Linked DNA regions of Homo sapiens. The protein of the gene in region 1 interacts with the protein of each later gene in a pairwise test. Each region holds a gene or a part of one and is shown in the gene's direction. Other genes may lie near its edges. The genes, in order: SHMT1 and IDH3A.

Region 1 (9,724 bases):
GAAAGAAAATCAAACTAACAGCCACCTGTGTAGTGTAAGTCCAGTGAAATGCTTAGGTGTGTCATATGTTGTTTAACATCTGCTAGGACTCAACATTCCCCGAGGGCACAACCGGGGTCAGTGCAGTGGAATCCTCAGCACTTACAGGAGCCGGCGAGGGAAGAAATGACTACGCCCTTATCAGTGGACACAGACACTCTAAAACATATTTTATTTATGGCTGGGCATAGTGGTTCATGCCTGTAATCCCAGTGCTTTGGGAGGCTGAGACGGGAGGATTGCTTGAGGCCAGGAGCTTGAGACCAGCCTGAGCAACATTGCAAAATCCCATCTCTATCTCTACAGAAAATAAAAAATTAGCCAGGCGTGGTGGTATGTGACTGTAGTCCCAGCTACTTGAGAGGCTGAGGCAGAAGGATCACTTGAGCCCAGGAGTTTGAGACCAGCCTGGGCAACATCGTAGACTCTGTCTCTACAAAAAATTAAATTAAAAAAAATTAGCCAGGCACGGTGGTGCATACCTGTGGTCCCAGCTACTCGGGAGGCCAAGATGGTAGGATTGCTTGAGCCCAGCAGCTTGAGGCTGCGATAAACCATGATTGTGCCACTGCACTCCAGCCTGGGTGACAGAGCAAGACTTTGTCTCAAAAGAAAAAAAAAAGAAAGAAAAACACAAAGACAAAACACTACAAGAGGCAGAAAAAGAATGGAAGACAAAAATACAAAGAAACAAAAGCAACAATTAGAAAACAGTAAAAAAAAAAAGGCAGATATTAATCCAATTATATCAACAATTCCTTTGCATATCAATGGTCCAAATTAACCGATTAAAAGAGAGAGATTGGGCTGGGCGAAGTGGCTCACGCCTGTAATCCCAGCACTTTGGGAGGCCAAGGTGGGCGGATCACGAGGTCAGGAGATTGAGACCATCCTGTCTAACATGGTGAAACCCTGTCTCTACTAAAAATACAAAATATTAGCTGGGCGTGGTGGCGGGCGCCTGTAGTCCCAGCTACTTGGGAGGGTGAGGCAGGAGAAAGGCGTGAACCCAGGAGGCAGAGGTTGCAGTGAGCTGAGATCGTGCCACTGCGCTCCAGCCTGGGCAACAGAGCAAGACTCCATCTCAAAAAAAAAAAAGAAAAAAAGAGAGAGATTGTCAGAGTACAGCAAAAAACAAGATGCAACTATATGCTCCTTGTAAGAACTACACTTTAAAGATGTATATATTAAAAGTAAATGGATAAAGAAAGATCTACTATGCCAACACTAATCAAAAGGAAGCAGGAGTCCCTATATTAATTTCAGACAGTACAGGCTTCAGGGCAAGGAAAGTCATCAGGAACAGGACAGGTGCTGGGTGGCTTCCCAGCACTTTGGGAAGCCAAGGCGGGCAGATCACTTGAGGCCAGGAATTCAAGACAAGCCTGGCCAACATGACAAAACCCTGTCTTTACTAAAAATACAAAAATTAGCTGGGCATGGTTGCACTCGACTGTAATCCCAGCTACTCCTCAGGCTGAGGCACGAGACTCACTTGAGCCTGGGAGGCAGAGGCTGCAGTAAGCTGAGATCATGCCACTGTACTCCAGCCTGGTTGACAGAGACTCTGTCTCAAAAAAAAAAAAAAAAAGAAAGAAAAGAAAAGAAAAAGAAAAAGGAAGGAAGGAAGGAAGGGAAAGAAAAGAAAGTTGTGAGGGATAAGGACAGGTCATTACATAATGATTAAGGAGTCAATGCTCAAAGAAGACATAACAGTCCTTAACATGTATGATCCTGACAACAGAACATCAAAATATGTGACTGAAAAAGTGACAGCGCTGCAAGGAGAAACTATTATAGTTGGCGACTTCAATGTCCCTCTATCAGAAACGGACAGATCCAGCAGGCAGAAAATCTGTAACTCAGTAACACCCTCTGTAACTGGATATAATGGAAACCTATAGACTATTTCATACGATGACAGCAGAAAAAAAAGAAAAGAAAAACGCTTTGGTTTTTCCCGTATCTTAGGCTGGAGAGCAGTGGCACGATCACAGCTCACTGCAGCCTTGAACTCCTGGGCTCAGGAGATCCTCCCCACTCAGCACCCTGACTAGTTGGGAATACAGGTGTGCACTTCCACACCTGGCCAATTTTCTTTCTTTCTTTTTAATTTTTTTCATCATGTAGCACAAAATGTCATAATTTTTTTAATTTTAATTTTTCATAGAGATGGGATCTTGCTATGTTGCCCAGGCTACTCTTGAACTCCTGGCCTCAAGCAATCCTCCTACCTCAGCCTCCCAAAGTTCTAAGATTACAGGTGTGAGCCTGAGTCACCATGCCCAGCCACAAATAAAATATTTTTTAGCTGGGCGCGGTGGCTCACGCCTGTAATCCCAGCACTTTGGGAGGCCAAGGCGTGTGGATCATGAGGTCAGGAGATCGAGACCATCCTGGCCAAAATGGTGAAACCTCATCTCTACTAAAAATACAAAAATTAGCCAGACGTGGTGGTGGGTGCCTGTAGTCCCAGCTACTCAGGAGGCTGAAGCAGGAGAATTGCTTGAACCTGGGAGGCAGAGGTTGCAGTGAGCCAAGATTGTGCCACTGCACTCCAGCCTGGAGACAGAGCAAGACTCCATCTCAAAAAACAAAAAAAAAAAAAAAAAAATTTAAGTATCAGTAGGCCGGGCACAGTAGCTCATGCCTGTAATCCCAGCAGTTTGGGAAGCTGAGGCAGGTGGATCACTTGAGGTCAGGAGTTTGAGACCAGCCTGGCCAACATGGCAAAACCCCGTCTCTACTAAAAATACAAAAAAAAAAAAAAAAAAAAAAAAAAAGCCAGGTGTCATGGTGCATGCCCGTAACCCCAGCTACTCGAGAGGCTGAAGAAGGAGAATCACTTGAACCCAGGAAGCAGAGATTGCAGTGAGCCAAGATCACGCCACTGCACTCCAGCCTGGGCAACAGAGACTCTATCTAAAAAAAATAAAAAAATAAAAAATGAAGCATTCAGTGCTGGAGAAGAAATGGGAAATGGGTATTTCCCTAAATTGTTGCTGGGAGTGTGAATTGTTACAATGCTTGTAGAAAGCAATATGGCAATATTTACTAAAAGCTTGACCCAGAAATCTTACTTTGGATATTAAAAAACTCACGGGTTGGGCACAGTGGCTTATGCCTGTAATCCCACCACTTTGGGAGGCTGAAGCGAGCAGATCATCTGAGGTCAAGAGTTCGAGACCAGCCTGACCAACATAGTGAAACCTCGTCTCTACTAAAAATACAAAAATTAGCAGGGCGTAGTGGCGCACGCCTGTAGTCGCAGCTACTTGGGAGGCTGAGGTGGGAGAACTGCTTGAACCCGGGAGGCGGAAGCTGCAGTGAGCCGAGATCACACTATTGCACCTCAGCCTGGGCAACAGAGAGAGGCTCCGTCTCAAAAAAACAAACAACAGGCCGGGCGCGGTGGCTTGTGCCTGTAATCCCAGCACTTTGGGAAGCCGAGGCAGGTGAATCACGTGAGGTCAGGAGTTCGAGACCAGCCTGGCTGACATGGCGAATCCCTGTCTGTGAGAAAAATACAAAAATTAGCTGTGCACGGCCGGGCGCGGTGGCTCATGCCTGTAATCCCAGCACTTTGGGAGGCCGAGGCAGGCGGATCAGAGGTCAGGAGATCAAGACCATCCTGGCTAACACAGTGAAACCCTGTCTCTACTAAAAATATAAAAAATTAGCCGGACATGGTGGCGGGCGCCTGTAGTCCCAGCTACTCGGGAGGCTGAGGCAGGAGAACGGCGTGAACCTGGGAGGTGGAGATTGCAGTGAGCGAAGATCGAGCCACTGCACTCATGCCTGGGCGACAGAGCGAGACTCCGTCTCAAACAAACAAACAAAAAGAACAATTAGCTGGGCATGGTGGTGCACGCCTGTAGTCCCAGCTACTCGGGAAGCCGATGCAGGAGAATTGCTTGAACCAGAGAGGCAGAGGTTGCAGGGAGCCAAGATCGCATCACTGCACTCCAGCCTGGGTGACAGAGCGAGACTCCATCTCAAATAAATAAATAAATAAAACAAAAACAAAAAACAAAAACACTCACTATGTTGGCCAGGCGCAGTGGCTCTTGCCTGTTATCCCAGCACTTTGGGAGGCCGAGGAGGATGGATCACTTGAGATCAGGAGTTCAAGACCAGCCTAGCCAATATGGTGAAACCCTATCTCTACTAAACATACAAAAATTAGCCGGGTGTGGTGGCTCACGCCTGTAATCCTAGCACTTTGGCAGGCTGAGGCAGGTGGATCACAAGGTCAGGAGATCAAGACCATCCTGGCTAACATGGTGAAACCCTGTCTCTACTGAAAATACAAAAAATTAGCCAGGCGTGGTGGTGGGCTCCTGTAGTCCCAGCTACTCGGGAGGCTGAGGCAGGAGAATGGCATGAACCCAGGAGGCAGAGCTCGCAGTGGGCCTAGATCGCGCCACAGCACTCCAGCCTGGGCAAGAGAGGGAGACTCCGTCTCAAAAATAAAAAAAAATTAGCCAGGCGTGGTGGCGGAGGCCTGTAGTCCCAGCTACTCAGGAGGCTGAAGCAGGAGAATGACGTGAACCCGGGAGGTGGAGCTTGCAGTGAGCCGAGATCGCGCCACTGCACTCCAGCCTGGGCGACAGAGCAAGACTCTGTCTCAAAAAAAAAAAAAAGTTTTTTTTGTATTTTTTGTTTGTTTGTTTTTCGAGATGATGAGGGTCTCACTCTGTTGCCCAGGCTGGAGTACAGAGGCAAGATCATTGCTTACTGCAACCTCTGCCTCCCAGGCTCAAGTGATCCTCCCATTCAGCCCCCCAAGTAGCTGGGACTACAGGCGACTGCCACCACACCCAGCTAATTTTAAAATTATTTGTAGAGACAAGGTTTCACCATTTTGCCCAGGCTGGTCTTGAACTCCTAGGCTCAAGCCATCTGCCTCGGCCTCCCAAAGTGCTGGAATTACAGGGGTGAGCCACTGCGCCCGGTTTTTATCATTCTTATAATAATTATTGTTATCATTTGACAAATAAAAAAATTTATGACGCAGCCTCAGGTGGTCCTGACATGTGGCCCCGGTTTTTATCATTCTTAACAATAGGTAATGTTCATTGAGTCCTTATTGTGTGTCAGTATTTTATTTATCTTATTTTATTCTTCTTGAGACGTTGTCTCGCTCCGTCCCCCAGGCTGGAGTGCAGTGGCGCGATCTCGACTCACTGCAACCTCCGCCTCCTGGGAGGCAACATAGTTAGACCCCCATCTCTACTTCAACCTGGGGGACAGAGTGAGACCCTGTCTCAAAAAAATAAAAATAAAAAATAACAAAAATAATAATAATAAAGTGTCTGCTCTTGGATTATACACCTACAGAGTAATAATGTTGCAGTTTGGACGCACATTTGTCCTACTTTAAATGACCACCCTGCAAACTAAAAGTAGTACCATGAACAAAATTCACTCATAATCCCACGGCCCAAGCGACAGGCTTAAGTGAGGAAGGCCCTGTGTAGTCTTCCTGGAAATCTTGGTCCACACACCAGCCCTGCAGCCAAAGCGGGTCAGTTCTGCAGGTCCCTGCCCCAGGTGCGCAGCTGCACTACGCGGCCTCCGGCCCGCCCCGGAGAAACAGGCCCTGCCCGCCGCTGCGCCGCAGCCAATAGCGCGGGTGCGTTTGGTGGCGGCCCATGCTTGGCTGCGCTCTCTGATTGGGCGCCTCCGGGGGCGGGGCCAAGCCCAAGCCTGGCGCGCAGAGTGCACCTTCCTGAGCTCGAGCGGTCCAGCGCCAAGTTCGGGGTTTGGGGTTGGAGCGGCTGGTCACGTGGCTGGCCCGCGGCGGTGCGCGGGGCGTTGGGTCAGCGGGTCTGGGACTGGTGGCACCGGCGGCGGCGTAGGACGGAGGCGTCGCTAGGTACGTGCGCGGGCCGTGTTCCGGTAGGTGGGCGGCTTCGGGTCCGAGGGCCGCGGCGTCCCAGAGCCCGGGGGGTGCTTCGGCGTCCTCGCTGTCCCCCGCCGTACCCCACCCTCTGCAGCCGCAATGACGGGAGGGGAGCGCTTGGGTCGCGCCTGGGCTGGGGATCGGGCGGCGGCCAGCCGCAGCGCCCCAGTTCCAGGCACATTCGGTATGATGGGGTGGCGGCCCGTGGCCTTTGGCAAGAATGCGAAGGCTTATCGGGGATGTGAGTAGTAGCTCTCCACTGAACACTTTTCTCGTTGAGCATTTTCGATTTAAACAATCCTAGCTCCTTCACAACAAAGCTGCAAGTCAAGTGCTACTGTTTCCCCCATTTTACAGGTGAGGAAGGTGGTGGGGCCCTGAGAAAGGAGGCAACTTAAATGGCAGAGCCCGGAATAGAACCCGGGTTCTCAAAGCCTGCGCCCCTAAAGGCTGCGCGCAGGGTCGCTCCACTTTTGGCCCGTGCCACCAGATCCCTGTGGGGAATGAGCTCTTCCTGTTGCCCGCAATCTGCCACCCCCTGTTCTAGGAGACAAATGTTGCACTGTGAAGTTCTTGGCCCGGTGCCTTGGCTTCGAGATTCCGGGAGTTAAGTGACCCTTGGTCCAGCTGAGGTCAGCACAGATGCGGGCCTTCAATCGGGCAGTTACCCAGAGAATAGACTGGAAACACCAGTTTAGGTTCTTGCAGAAATAACATTGTAGGCCGGGCGCGGTGGCTCATGCCTGTAATCCCAGCATTTTGGGAGGCCGAGGTGGGCGGATCACTTGAGGTTAGTAGTTGGAGACCAGCCTGGCCAACATGGTGAAACCCCGTCTGTACTAAAAATACAAAAAAACCTGGCTGCCCATGGTGGCACACACCTATAATCCCAGCTACTCGGAAGGCTGAGGCAGGAGAATCGCTTGAACCCGGGAGGTGGAGGTTGCAGTGAGCGGAGATCACGCCACTGCACTCCAGCCTGAGTGACAGAGTGAGACTCTATCTCAAAAGAAAGAAAGAGAGAGAAAGAAAAGAAAAAAAAGAAAAGAAATAACGTAAATTTATTACTTGGGGGAACTTGGAACGGAAGTGGGTAATTGTGTTTTTATTTAGTGCAATGTCCTGGGACAAGGCCTTGGAACTGAAGAGAAACCATTGTTCAGATTCTGGCTCTTATATGGCTTTAGACAAGTTAGCTCCCTGGGCCTCAATTTCCTCTTCTGTAAAGAAGAGAACACAAAATGTGTGTGAGATAGAAGATGTGCAACAAGTTAGTTCCCTGAGCAGATCCTTGGCTGGATCCTCTTATGTGACAGAGGCCCAGGTAAGATTTGGAGGCATGGGGAGGCTGGTGACCTTGCAGGTGACTTCACTTACTAGGTCTTTTTCCCTGACGTTGAGGATCATGCCACACATGAGCAACAGTGCCTCTACAGAAATATCCAATGTTGTAATGACTGATGTTGCAGTGAGCTGTGTTGGCTGGGGGACTTACCAGGTATTACTGAATGTTAATGAAGATGTCCCTAAGATTCCCAATTTTCTTTTTTTTTTTTTTTGAGACGGAGTCTCACTCTGTTGCCCAGGCCGGAGAGCAGTGGCGCGATCTCGGCTCACTGCAAGCTCCGCCTCCCGGGTTCACGCCATTCTCCTGCCTCAGCCTCCTGAGTAGCTGGGACTACAGGCGCCGCCACCACGCCCAGCTAATTTTTTTTTATTTTTGTAGAGACGGGGTTTCACCATGTTAGCCAGGATGGTCTCGATCTCCTGACCTCGTGATCTGCCCGCCTCGGCCTCCCAAAGTGCTGGGATTACAGATGTGAGCCACTGCACCCAGCCCCCTTTTTTCTTTTTTGTTTTTTTTTTTGAAACGGAGTCTAGCTCTGTCACCCAGGCTGGAGTGCAGTGGCATGATCTCGGTCCACTGCAATCTCTACCTCACTGGTTCAAGCTATTCTCCTGGTCTCAGCCTGCTGAGTAGCTGGGATTACAGGCATATGCCACCATGCCTGGCTAATTTTTGTTTTTGTTTTTTTTTTTTTTTTTGAGACAGAGTCTTGCTCTGTTGTCCAGGCTGGAGTGCGGTGGCACGATCTCAGCTCACTGCAACCTCCTGGGTTCAAGCGATTATCTTGCCTCAGCCTCCTGAGTAGCTGGGGTTACAGGTGCGCACCACACACCCAGCTCATTTTTGTATTTTTAGTAGAGATGGAGTTTTACCGTGTTGGTCAGGCTGGTCTCGAACTCCTGACCTGGGGTGATGCACCCGCCTTGGCCTCCCAAAGTGCTTGGATTACAGGAATTGAGCCACTGCGCCCAGCTAATTTTTGTATTTTTAGTAGAGATGGGGTTTCACCATATTGGCCAGGCTGGTCTCAAACTCCTGACCTCAAGTGATCCACCCACCTCGGCCTCCCAAAGTGCTGGGATTACAGGCGTCAGCCACCGCGCCTGACCGCTTTTTTTTCTTTCTTTAGAGAGACGGGGTCTCCCTATGTTGCCCAGGGTGGTCTTGACTCTTGTGGTCCTGTGACTCCCCAGACTTCAGGTGTGCAAGCCTGATTTCTGACCCTTGGCCAGTCACACTTTCTCCTTTGTCTGGCCTTTGAACTTGGGGTGCTCTGCACTTGTTTACTCTGCGTAGATTGCTCTCATCCCAGATTTCATGGTTGGCTCCTTTCCACAGCTCAGATTTCAGCTCCGGGACGTTCCCTGACCCAGTCTAAAGTAGCCTTGCACCCATTTATTGCATCTTTCTTTCTTTTCTTTTCTTTTTTTTTTTTTTGAGACAGGGTCTTGTTCTCTTGGCCAGGCTGGAGTGCTGTGGGAAAATCTGGGCTCACTGCAGCCTCAACCTCCGGGACTCAAGTGATCATCCTGCCTCAGCCACCCAGAGTAGCTGAGAATACAGGCGTGCGCCACCAGGCTCGGGTAATTTTTTGTATTTTTTTTTAGAGACAGGGTTTTGCCATGTTGCCTAGGCTGGTCTTGAACGCCTGGGCTCAAGTGATCTTCTCGTCTCAGCCTCTCAGAGTTCTGGGATTACAAGTGTAAGCAACCATGCCTGGCCTTGTGTATTTCTTTTTGGTTTTTTTTGTGATGGAGTCTTGCTCTGTCACCCAGGCTGGAGTGCAATGGTATGATCTCGGCTCACTGCAACCTCCACCTCCTGGGTTCAAGCGATTTTCCTACCTCAGCCTCCCGCATAGCTGGTATTACAGGGGCCCACCACTATGCCCATCTAATTTTTGTATTTTTTAGTAGAGACGGGGTTTCGCTGTGTTGGCCAGGCTGGTCTCGAACTCCTGACCTCAGGTGATCCGCCCGCCTTGGCCTCCCAAAGTGCTGGGGTTACAGGTGTGAGCCACTGTGCCTGGCCAAATAATTTTTTTTTTTTTTTAAGATAGAGTCTTGCTTTGTTGCCAGGCTGCGGTGCAGTGGTGTGATCTCTGCTCACTACAGTCTCCGCCTCCTGGGTTCAAGCCATTCTTCTGCCTCAGCCTCCTGAGTAGCTGGAATTACAGGCGGGCGCCACCACACCCAGCTAATTTTAGTATTTTTAGTGGAGATGGGGTTTCACCATGTTGGCCAGGACAGTCTTGATTTCCTGACCTTGTGGTCTGCCCGCCTTGGCCTCCCAAAGTGCTGGGATTACAGGCGTGAACCACTGCACCTGGCCTTTTTTTTTTTATTGAGACACAGTCTCACTCTGTCACCCAGACTGGAGTGCAGTGGCACAATCTCGGCTCACTGCAGCCTCCACCTCTGAGGCTCAAGTAA
Region 2 (9,600 bases), on another chromosome or scaffold:
CCCTGGTGGCAGCAGCTGCCAAGGGGAAAAGTGTCCAAAACTGAACCTATTTTGAAAACAGCTCATCTTCAGGCTTTTGGCCTCAGCAACTAGAAGGCTGGAGTTGAATTTTATTGGGTGGGGGAATTCTGTGGGAGGGAGCAGGTTTCCTTCTACTCTTTGTTCACATATAAAAAGAAGTTATAAGAGAACATAGATAATAGTTTAAATTTTTATTTTTTTCTGAACATTCAACCATAAACATTTATCAAGATGCTAAAGTCTTCATAATACTCACTTTAAAAATGTTTTTTTTGGCCAGGCGCGGTCGCTCATGCCTGTAATCCCAGCACTTGGGAGGCCGAGGCAGGCGGATCACGAGGTCAGGAGATCAAGACCACCCTGGCTAACATGGTGAAACCCTGTCTCTACTAAAAATACAAAAAATTAGCTGAGCATGGTGGCGGGCGCCTGTAGTTCCAGCTACTTGGGAGGCTGAGGCAGGAGAATGGCATGAACGCAGGAGAATGGCGTGAACCCAGGAGGCGGAGCTTGCAGTGAGCCAAGACAGCGCCACTGCACTCCAGCCTGGGCGACAGAGCCAGACTCCATCTCAAAAAAAAAAATTATTTTTTAATTTTATTTTTAGAGATAAGGTCTTCCTCTGTCATCCAGGCTGGAGTGCAGTGGTGCAATCATGGCTCACTGTAGCCTCTAACTCCTGGGCTCAAGTGAGCCTTCCACCTCAGCCTCCCAAGTGGCTGGGACTACAGGTACATGCCACCATGCCTGGCTAAATTTTTATATTTTGTAGAGACTATGTCTTGCTATGTTGCCCAGGCTGGTCTTCAACTCCTGGCCTCAAGTGATCACCTCGGCCTCCCAAAGTGCTGGGATTGCAGATGTGAACCACCATGCCAGGCCATTGATCACTTTTGAAGGCTGCATGATGGTCCACTTCATTCATTTCCCCTAAATTACATAACCATTTCTTCTGTTAATCATTTAGACTGCTTTTTTCTCTTTTTAGTTTTCAAAATTAAGGATAATTGTATAATGAATATCTTTGTGTTGATGGCTTTTTCTTTCTGGATTTTTTTCCCCAAGAGTTTAATTCTCAGGAATGGATTTACTAGGTGAAAGAGTAAGAACAGTTAATGTCTCTCTTAAGACACATTGCTAAACTGTTTTCCAAAGAGATTGTGGAAATGTATAAGGCCAGCCAAGCAGTGCGCCATAAATTGGATGGTATAAGGCATTGCATTTTATTAATATTTTTAAATAAAAATAATTTTTTTTAGAAATTTGCATGCATTTGACTATTGTTAAGATTGAACATTTATTTAAAAGTTTATTTGGCTGTGAATTGATTATTCAGGTCCTTTTCCCGTTTTGTTTTGTTTTTTTTTTTCCCGAGACGGAGTCTTACTCAGTCACCCAGGCTGGAGTGCAGTGGTGTGATCTCGCCTCACTGCAACTTCCACCTCCCAGGTTCAAGTGATTCTCCTGCCTCAGCCTCCCCAGTAGCTGGGACTACAGGTGTGCACCACCATGCCTCCCTAAGTTTTGTATTTTTAGTAGAGAGGGGGTTTTACTATGTTAACCAGGCTGGTCTTGACCTCCTGACCTTGTGATCTGCCCGCCTCGGCCTCCAAAAGTGCTGGGATTACAGGAATGAGCCACCATGCCCGGCCTATGTTTTTTGTTTTGTTTTGTTTGAGACAGAGTCTTACTCTGTCGCCCAGGCTGGAGTGCAGTGGCACGATCTCGGCTCACTGCAACCTCGGCCTCCCAGGTTCAAGCAGTTCTCTGCCTCAGCCTCCTTTGTAGCTGGGATTACAGGTACCCGCCACCACGCCCAGCTAATTTTTTGTATTTTTAGTAGAGACAGGCTTTCACCATCTTGGCCAGGCTGGTCTTGAACTCCGGACCTCGTGATCCACCCACCTCTGCCTCCCAAAGTGCTGGGATTACAGGCGTGAGCCACCGCGCCCAGTCCCCTTTTCCCATTTATTTACTAAAGTCCTAATACCTTCTTTACCAATTTGTTGGATCTTTTCCTAACTTAGAGATAGGGATGAACCCTTTGCCAATCATATCTTTAATGAAAATAATATTTTAAATAAAGTAGGAAAACTGTTGAAATGAATTTCTTTTGTAACAAAAAATAAACATTTGGTATGTGAATAATGTATATTCTGTTTTGCTGATTTATTCACTTAAAAATTGCTATCTTGATTTTATTATTTATTTATTTGACACAGAGTCTCGCTCTGTCACCCAGGTTGGAGTGCAGTGGTGCGATCTTGGATCACTGCAATCTCCGCCTCCCAGGTTCAAGTGATTCTCCTGCCTCAGCGTCCTGAGTAGCTGGGACTACAGATGCACACCACCACCCCTGGCTAATTTTTGTTACTTTTAGGAGAGATGGGGTTTCACCATATTGGCCAGGCTGGTCTCAAACTCCTGACCTCAGGCGATCCACCCACCTCTGCCTCCCAAAGTGCTGCGATTACAGGAGTGAGCCACCGCACCTGGCCTCTTGATTTTAAAATCTTTTTTTTTTTCCTTAGAGTGAAGCACACCTGGATTGGATAGTGCTTGTTATTACAGATAAGGGTGCACTTTCTAGATTCTTCTCCTGAGTGGCAAAGTTTTCCCACCGTCTTGTCCAAACATACTTTGCTGATGGTATCTCTGGGCACTACACAGTGCAAGGGACAAGGAAAAAGGGCTTTTCCAGAGGAGAGTGACCTGCATCTTGGAGGAACTCTAGAACATGTTCGAGGAATGGTGACTGGGGCTTCTGGAGCCAAGGGCTGACTCAGGGAACAGATCTCAGCTCAAGGTGAGGTCATTTCTGTTTCCTGCATGTCCCTCCAGCTGCTGACATTTTACCTCTTCAAGGACTGATTCAAATGCCATCTCCATTGTGCAATCTTCCTTGATCACCCCCCAACTTCCATCTGAGACTTCTGAGTTTCTCCCTCACTAGATCTGGAGGGTAGGAGTGGGTCTTGTTCATTTTTTGTTCTCACAGTGCACTTGCTAGAGAATGGCTTGGGAAGCCTTTGTAGGATTGGACTGGCCCTCAGCGAAAGTTCAGCAGTTAGGAGAACTGCCTTAGTACTTAGGAAGCTTCCTAGTGTGAATGCCAGCATCATCACTTACTAGCTGTACTTCAGTTTTCTCATAGGGTTGTTGTGAAGATTAAATGAAGACTGGACAAAGTCAGTCAATGTTTATTTCACAATCACTGAGCAGCAAGTATTCCTTGTGTACCAGTCTCTGTTCCAGAAACAACGTCATAAGAGATCATCAAGATTATCTCTGGACTTAAGGCATATCTTCTCTCTATCTCTTTTGAGACAGAGTCTCGCTCTGTCACCCAGACTGGAGTGCAGTGGCATGATCTCGGCTCACTGCAACCTCTGCCTCGTGGGTTCAAGCGATTCTGATGCCTCAGTCTCCTGAGTCACTGGGATTATAGGCATGTGCCAACACGCCCAACTAATTTTTGTATTTTTAGTAGAGACAGGGTTTTGCCATGTTGGCCAGGCTGGTCTCCAACTCCTGACTTCAAGTGATCCACCTGCGTCGGCCACCCAAAGTGTTGGGATTACAGGCGTGAGTCACCACGCCTGGCCCAAAGCTTATCTTCTCAATGGCACACAGCAGAAGAGAATGTGATGTTTCCCAGGAGAGGTGGGAGCCAAGTGCTAGAGGGCTCTGAGTAAGGAGAGGGGGACACATTCGTGGGTCTTGGGGGCTTTTACAACTTTTACTACTTCCCAACATGTAAGCTGAGTCTTGACAAGGAGCTAGAATTTCAGCCAGTAGAAGTGGGGCAAGAGGGCATTGAGGCTGAGGGAATGGCACGACCATAGGCACGGAGAGGTAAAATATGGGAAGCATTTGGGGGCTGGCCAGCAGTCCTAGTTGGCAGGCGCTCCAGGTCTTTGGGGCTGGAAGGAGTGGTGGGAAATCAGGCTGAAAAAAGACAGTGGTGTGAGAGGAGAGTGCAAGGGAGAGCCAGGAGGTTTCAGAGCCGGGGCGAGCCCTGGTCAGAGCTGTGCCTGAAGGGGAGGGCAGGTTGGCAGGTGAAGAGGCTGTTGTAAGAGCCTGGGCCTGAGGTGGTCTGGCCCGAAGGAGGGCAGGGGTGACATTGGGGATGGAGGAACTGTGGGAGAACACTTCAGGATGGGACTGCCAGGGCCTGATGAGGGGAAGGGGCCCAATGGAAAGGGGTTGATAAAAGCCCTCCTTCCTGACAAGGCCACAGACTTAGCTGCAGTTTATTATTTAGGTCATAAAAGCTCTTGGGATCACTTCTCTACTGCACTCATCACCTCTCTGGGTGGGTAGGCAGCTCCTCTCTGGATAGAACTCTTCCCAGGGTAGGGTAGCAGAGACCTGGTTTAAACACCTGACCTCCCCTGGCACCCAGCTAGAGGCCTGGCCATCAGCAGGAACTCAGGAGTTTGTGATGGACAGGGAGAGGACAAGGGGAAAGGTGAGTATGGATGTTATTTCTTCAGAGAAGCATTCCCTGACCTCCAGGTTAGGTTTGAATCAGGTTGCCTGATTTTGCCTTGCCATAGCTCCTTGCTCTTTTGCTTCTTGGCGCAACAGTTTTAATGACATGTGTGTGACACTTGATTGAAGCCTGTCTTTCCTACTGGACACTAAGCCCCAGCACTTAAAACAGTGCCTGGTGTCTAGTTGACCCTCAGAAATATTTGTTGAGCTAAATAGACAGATTAGTAGTTGCCTGGGATTGAGGACAGGAGCGGGATTGACTATAAACGGACACAAGGAACATTTTCATATGCTCAAAAACTGGATTGTGGTGATGGTTGTGCAACTGTTTACATTTACTAAAAATCATCAAACTGTACACTTACAGTGAGTAAATGTTACTATATATACATTATACCTCAATAAAGCTGGTAAAAAATAAAATTCGGCCAGTCGCAGTGGCTCACTTTGTGAGCCTGGGGCAAGCAGATCGCTTGAACTCTGGAGTTCCAGACCAGCCTGAGCAACATAGCGAGGCCCCATCTCTACGGAGAAAAAAAAAAAAAAAAAAAAAGAAAAAGAAAAGAAAAAACAAAGTTGGGCTGGGCTTAGTAATTACTTGATCCCAGGAGGTCGAGGCTTTGTAGTGAACCTGTTCGCGCTACTGCACTCCAGCCTGGGCGACAGAGTGAGACCCGGTCTCAAAAAAAAAAAAAAAATCAAAATTTGTGGAATAAGAAAATTATGTGTCTTTCTCCACGGGATTGTAAATTCTATGAGGAGCGCTATATCCCCAAGATCCTAGAACATTAATCAGCACCTAGTAGGTGTGGAACAAACGTCTTACCTTAACAGCGAGTCAATGAACCAGGGAGGGGAGGAAGAAGCTTTCCCGGAGATGCCGGCCCCTCAGTTTCCGGGTTCGCCTGGCGCTCAGCCAGGCCAGTCACAGAGAGACGAGCCCGGCGATTCGCCAGCGGAATGTCCAGGGGCGGGGCAGCGAGCGAGCGCGAAGCAATCCTGAGGCGGTCTAGGGGGCGGGGCGTTCAGGGGGCGTGGCCGTGCAGGGGCGGGCTCCGAGCGTGGGGTGGGCGCTTGCGCACTGCCGCTGCGGCTGTTGCTGCGGAGCCAGGAGGGGAAGCGATGGCTGGGCCCGCGTGGATCTCTAAGGTGAGCGCTGGCAGGCCGGCGTGTGGCAGGCAGGCAGGCCGCGAGGGCTGGCAGGAGAGCCGGTCGCGTGCCGGGTGTGGGCGGGCGCGTGGGCCAGACAGGGAGGCGGTGGCTGCCCGCGGGGACAGCTTGGGAGCCGGTCCTGGTCGCCCGTGCCCCGCGCTCCGTGGCCGGCTCGCAGTGTATGGGCCGCCCCGGGCCGGGTCAGCAGCGCAGAGGCGGGGACGGCGTCAAGGTCAAGGCGGGGGGGCGCCGGCCCTGCTCCTGCCGAGACCCGGCTGCCGTCACCCGCATCCGCCCAGGCCAGAGCCCAGGCTTCGCGCCGAGCCCGGGAAGGTCACGGGAGCCTCTGTCCCGGCTCCGCCATCCGGGCCGCTTCCCCGGCTGCGGCCCTGCTGCGGGACTGATCCCCTCAGCACTGCCCACACCTCTCATCCGCTGTCTGCGCGGCCCTTGGCCGGGGAACCGCAGGTGCCACGGGCACTGGCGTTGAGCTTGGGAGGTTTTCCCAGGTGAGAGAATCCGGGGGCCCTTTTCCCTATCAGATTGTTTTCCCTTTGGCGCTCTTCCCAGTCAGACCTCTAGTGCTCTTGTAGCTATTTCCCCTTCATAGGATAGGGCATCTTACACCTCGGAATTACCGTCTGAACCTTCGGAGAGAGAGACCAGCAGAGCCTTCCTTTTACCTTTCATTGGTGGGAATCCTGCAATCTGGAGCGCTTTAGCTCTCCTTGACAGCTCAGATGCCAGAGCTGGAAAGGGTTTCAGATCATCTATGCAGTTCCGTAGCTTCTCAGTGGAACTAACCTGTGCCTGAAGAAGAATTTGCTCAAGGTCACACAGGAGGTCGGTGTCAGAGCAGGGAGAGGAACCTAGGTGTCTTGGTTCCCATTTCCCAAGGTCACATAGCAAATGATGGTACAGGCCATCAGGCCTCAAGTCTCCTGTTGCTATGAAAGGGTGGTCCCCTAGAAATCTATAAACAATTTAACGTTTTTCTGTAAGTTTGATACTACTTTTCTCCCATTTTTTCGGTTTAAAGAGAGGTCCAGAGATGCACTGTTATTTAAGGAAAAGATCTCTGTACTGGAATTTAGGAGTCTCAGATTTAAATCCTAGCAATGCCACTGATTGGCTGTGTGACCCTAAGCAAATTACTAAACATCTCTAAGCCTTAATATGCCCATCTGTGAATATCTATACTTACATCACAGAATTGTTTGAGTATTAAATAAAATAATGTATGTGAAAGCACTTGGTATGTACAGAAGGAAAACAAAAATCTGAAGCTTTCTTATCAATATGTTTATCTGTCTCCAACAGACAGTGGTTTTCATGGGCATCATTAACTGGTTTTTTTGTTCAATAACTAGATTCTACTTTGTCACCCTCTTCAGACCCAGATTTGCTTGTGATGATAACTCTTATGTCACATTTGCTCCTAAAAGTAAAGCAACTTCTGTGTCACTGTGAAAACTGAACTCAGTCCTTTAATCTCTGAACTTACATTTAACACCCAATTCATCTTTGGTAGGTACATTTGCCTTCACAGTGAGGCACTAAAGCAACACTTGATAATGATTGTGCTGGTAAATCTGTTTTGCCTTTAGTGTGATCTGCATGAAAAAACCCTCATAGTAGGTATTCAGAAAGTGTTGGGTTGTGGAGTCAGAAGATGAGGTTCTCTGACATGCACTCCCTGTGTGACCTTTGGCAGAGTCATTTGACTTCTGGGCCAGCTTCTCACTTTAGGGATTGGAGCAGAAGGTGGCTCAGAGGCTGACCCCAGGATGGTGGAGGTGCTGAGCTGGATGCCGGTTTCAATCAGGACAGTTCCTCTGTTGAGTTTCCATTTCAGGTTGTGGCCAGGCATGGTGGCTCATGCCTGTAATTCTAGCACTTTGGGAGGCCAAAGTGGGCGGATCACTTGAGGTCGGGAGTTCAAGACCAGCCTGGCCAACATGGCGAAACCCCATCTCTACTAAAAATACAAAAATTTGCTGGGCGTGGTGGCGCACGCCTGTAATCCCAGCTACTCGGGAGGCTGAGGCAGGAGAGTCACTTGAACCCAGGAGGTGGAGGCTGCGGTGAGAGGAGATCATGCTCCTACCTGGGTAACAGCAAGACTCTGTCTCAAAAAAAAAAAAGATTTTTTTTTTAAAACCCATCTCAGAACCCATGTACAACACTATTTACATGTTTTTAAGTTAAAAAGGAAATGAGTTGTGGATTAAGATGGCCCACGACCTGAAGTCCAAAGTTCAGGGTTTTGGTCCAGGCTTCATGAACCTGGCCTCAGTTTCCTCATCTGAAAAGTGCCAATAATGCCTATCTCTACAGGTTTTATATAAATAAAATGATGTGAGATATATATATATATATGCATATGAGTATTCTATAAAGTAGAAGTCCTGCCATCTCAGCCTTCCATGAAGCTGGGACTACTGGTGTGTGCCACCATACCTGGCTAACATTTAAAATTTTTTTTGTAGAGGTAGGGTCTCACTCTGTTGTCTAGGCTGATTGGTCAGGTCTTCTGTCACAGAGACATAAGCTAGTTTTGTGTGAATGTCTTTTCCCTCTTTTTTGGGCTGGGAGAGGAGAAAGGACTCATGTCAATTTTTTTTTTTTTTTTTTTTTTTTTTGAGACAGAGTTTTGCTCCTGTTGCCCAGGCTGGAGTGGAATGGTGAGATCTTGGCTCACTGCAACCTCCACCTCCTGGGTTCAAGCGATTCTCCTGCCTGAGCCTCCCAAGTAGCTGGGATTACAGGCACCCACCATCACACCCAGCTGATTTTTGTATTTTTATTAGAGACAGGGTTTCACCATGTTGGCCAGGCTGGTCTTGAACCCTGACCTCAGGTGATCCACCGGCCTCAGCCTCCCAAAGTGCTGGGATTACAAGCGTGAGGCACTGCGCCCGGCCTTTTTTTTTTTTTTTTTTTTGAGATGGAGTTTTGCTCTTGTCACCCAGGCTAGAGTGCAATGGCGCGATCTTGGCTCACCGCAACCTCTGCCTCCTGGGTTCAAGTGATTCTCCTCCCTCAGCCTCCTGAATAGCTGGGATTACAGGCATGTGCCACCACGCCTGGCTAATTTTGTATTTTTAGTAGAGACAGGGTTTCTCCATGTTAGTCAGGCTGGTCTTGAACTCCTGACCTCAGGTGATTTGCCTGCCTCAGCCTCCCAAAGTGCTGGGATTACAGGCGTGAGCCACCGCATCCGGCCTCATGTCACTTTTATGCTCTGCTTGTCACGAAGTAACCTTTAAATGGTGCTTTGGAAAATTTTATTTTACTTAAAGTTCTGGGTCATTGTGATGACTTAGGTGCAGTACTGCTTTATTCTAAGATCATGCAAGAGAGATGACAAACATGGAAAAGACTGGTCCTTAAAGAAGATCATTGCAAGTATTAAGGCTACTTGTTGGCTTGGAAACTCTTCAGATAGAGATGTGACTGAGGCTGGACTCAGTTTTGTTTGATTGTTGTTTTGTTTTTTTTTAAATTATTGAATACCTTCTATGAGCCAGGGACTGTTCTAGACACTAGATACAACAGTGAACAAAACACAAATCCTTACACTCCTGGGTTTACATTGCTGCCCCCAGCATATGCAGGTAGGATGGGTTTACATTTTAAAATCAGTTGTTTGAGTCGGGTCTTTTTCATTCTTTCTTTCTTTTTTTCTTTTTTTTGTCCATTACCTAGGCTGGAGTGCAGTGGCATAATCATAGCTCACAGAAGCCTCAAGCTCCTGGGCTCAAGCAGTCCTGAGCTCAAGCCGACTTAGCCTCCCATGTAGCTGAGACCATTGGTGTGCACCACCATACCTGGCTAATTTTGTAGAGACAGGGTCTCACTTTGTTGCACAGCCTGGTTGGTTGGGTCTTCTGTCACAAGGACATGAGTTTTGTGTGAATGTCTTTTCCT

What was found.
Region 2: the proteins of SHMT1 (region 1) and IDH3A interact in binary tests that used the Homo sapiens proteins (3 or more experiments, as listed by UniProt).

What each region holds. Positions count from the first base shown.
Region 1 is NC_000017.11:18,359,565-18,369,288, reverse strand, and holds the start of SHMT1 (serine hydroxymethyltransferase, cytosolic), read left to right. Parts: upstream 1-5,738; 5' UTR 5,739-5,917; exon of another isoform or gene 5,918-5,940; intron 5,941-8,736; exon of another isoform or gene 8,737-8,875; intron 8,876-9,724. UniProt on the Homo sapiens protein: Interconversion of serine and glycine.
Region 2 is NC_000015.10:78,143,764-78,153,363, forward strand, and holds the start of IDH3A (isocitrate dehydrogenase [NAD] subunit alpha, mitochondrial precursor), read left to right. Parts: upstream 1-5,598; 5' UTR 5,599-5,640; coding exon 5,641-5,667; exon of another isoform or gene 5,668-6,179; intron 6,180-9,600. UniProt on the Homo sapiens protein: Catalytic subunit of the enzyme which catalyzes the decarboxylation of isocitrate (ICT) into alpha-ketoglutarate.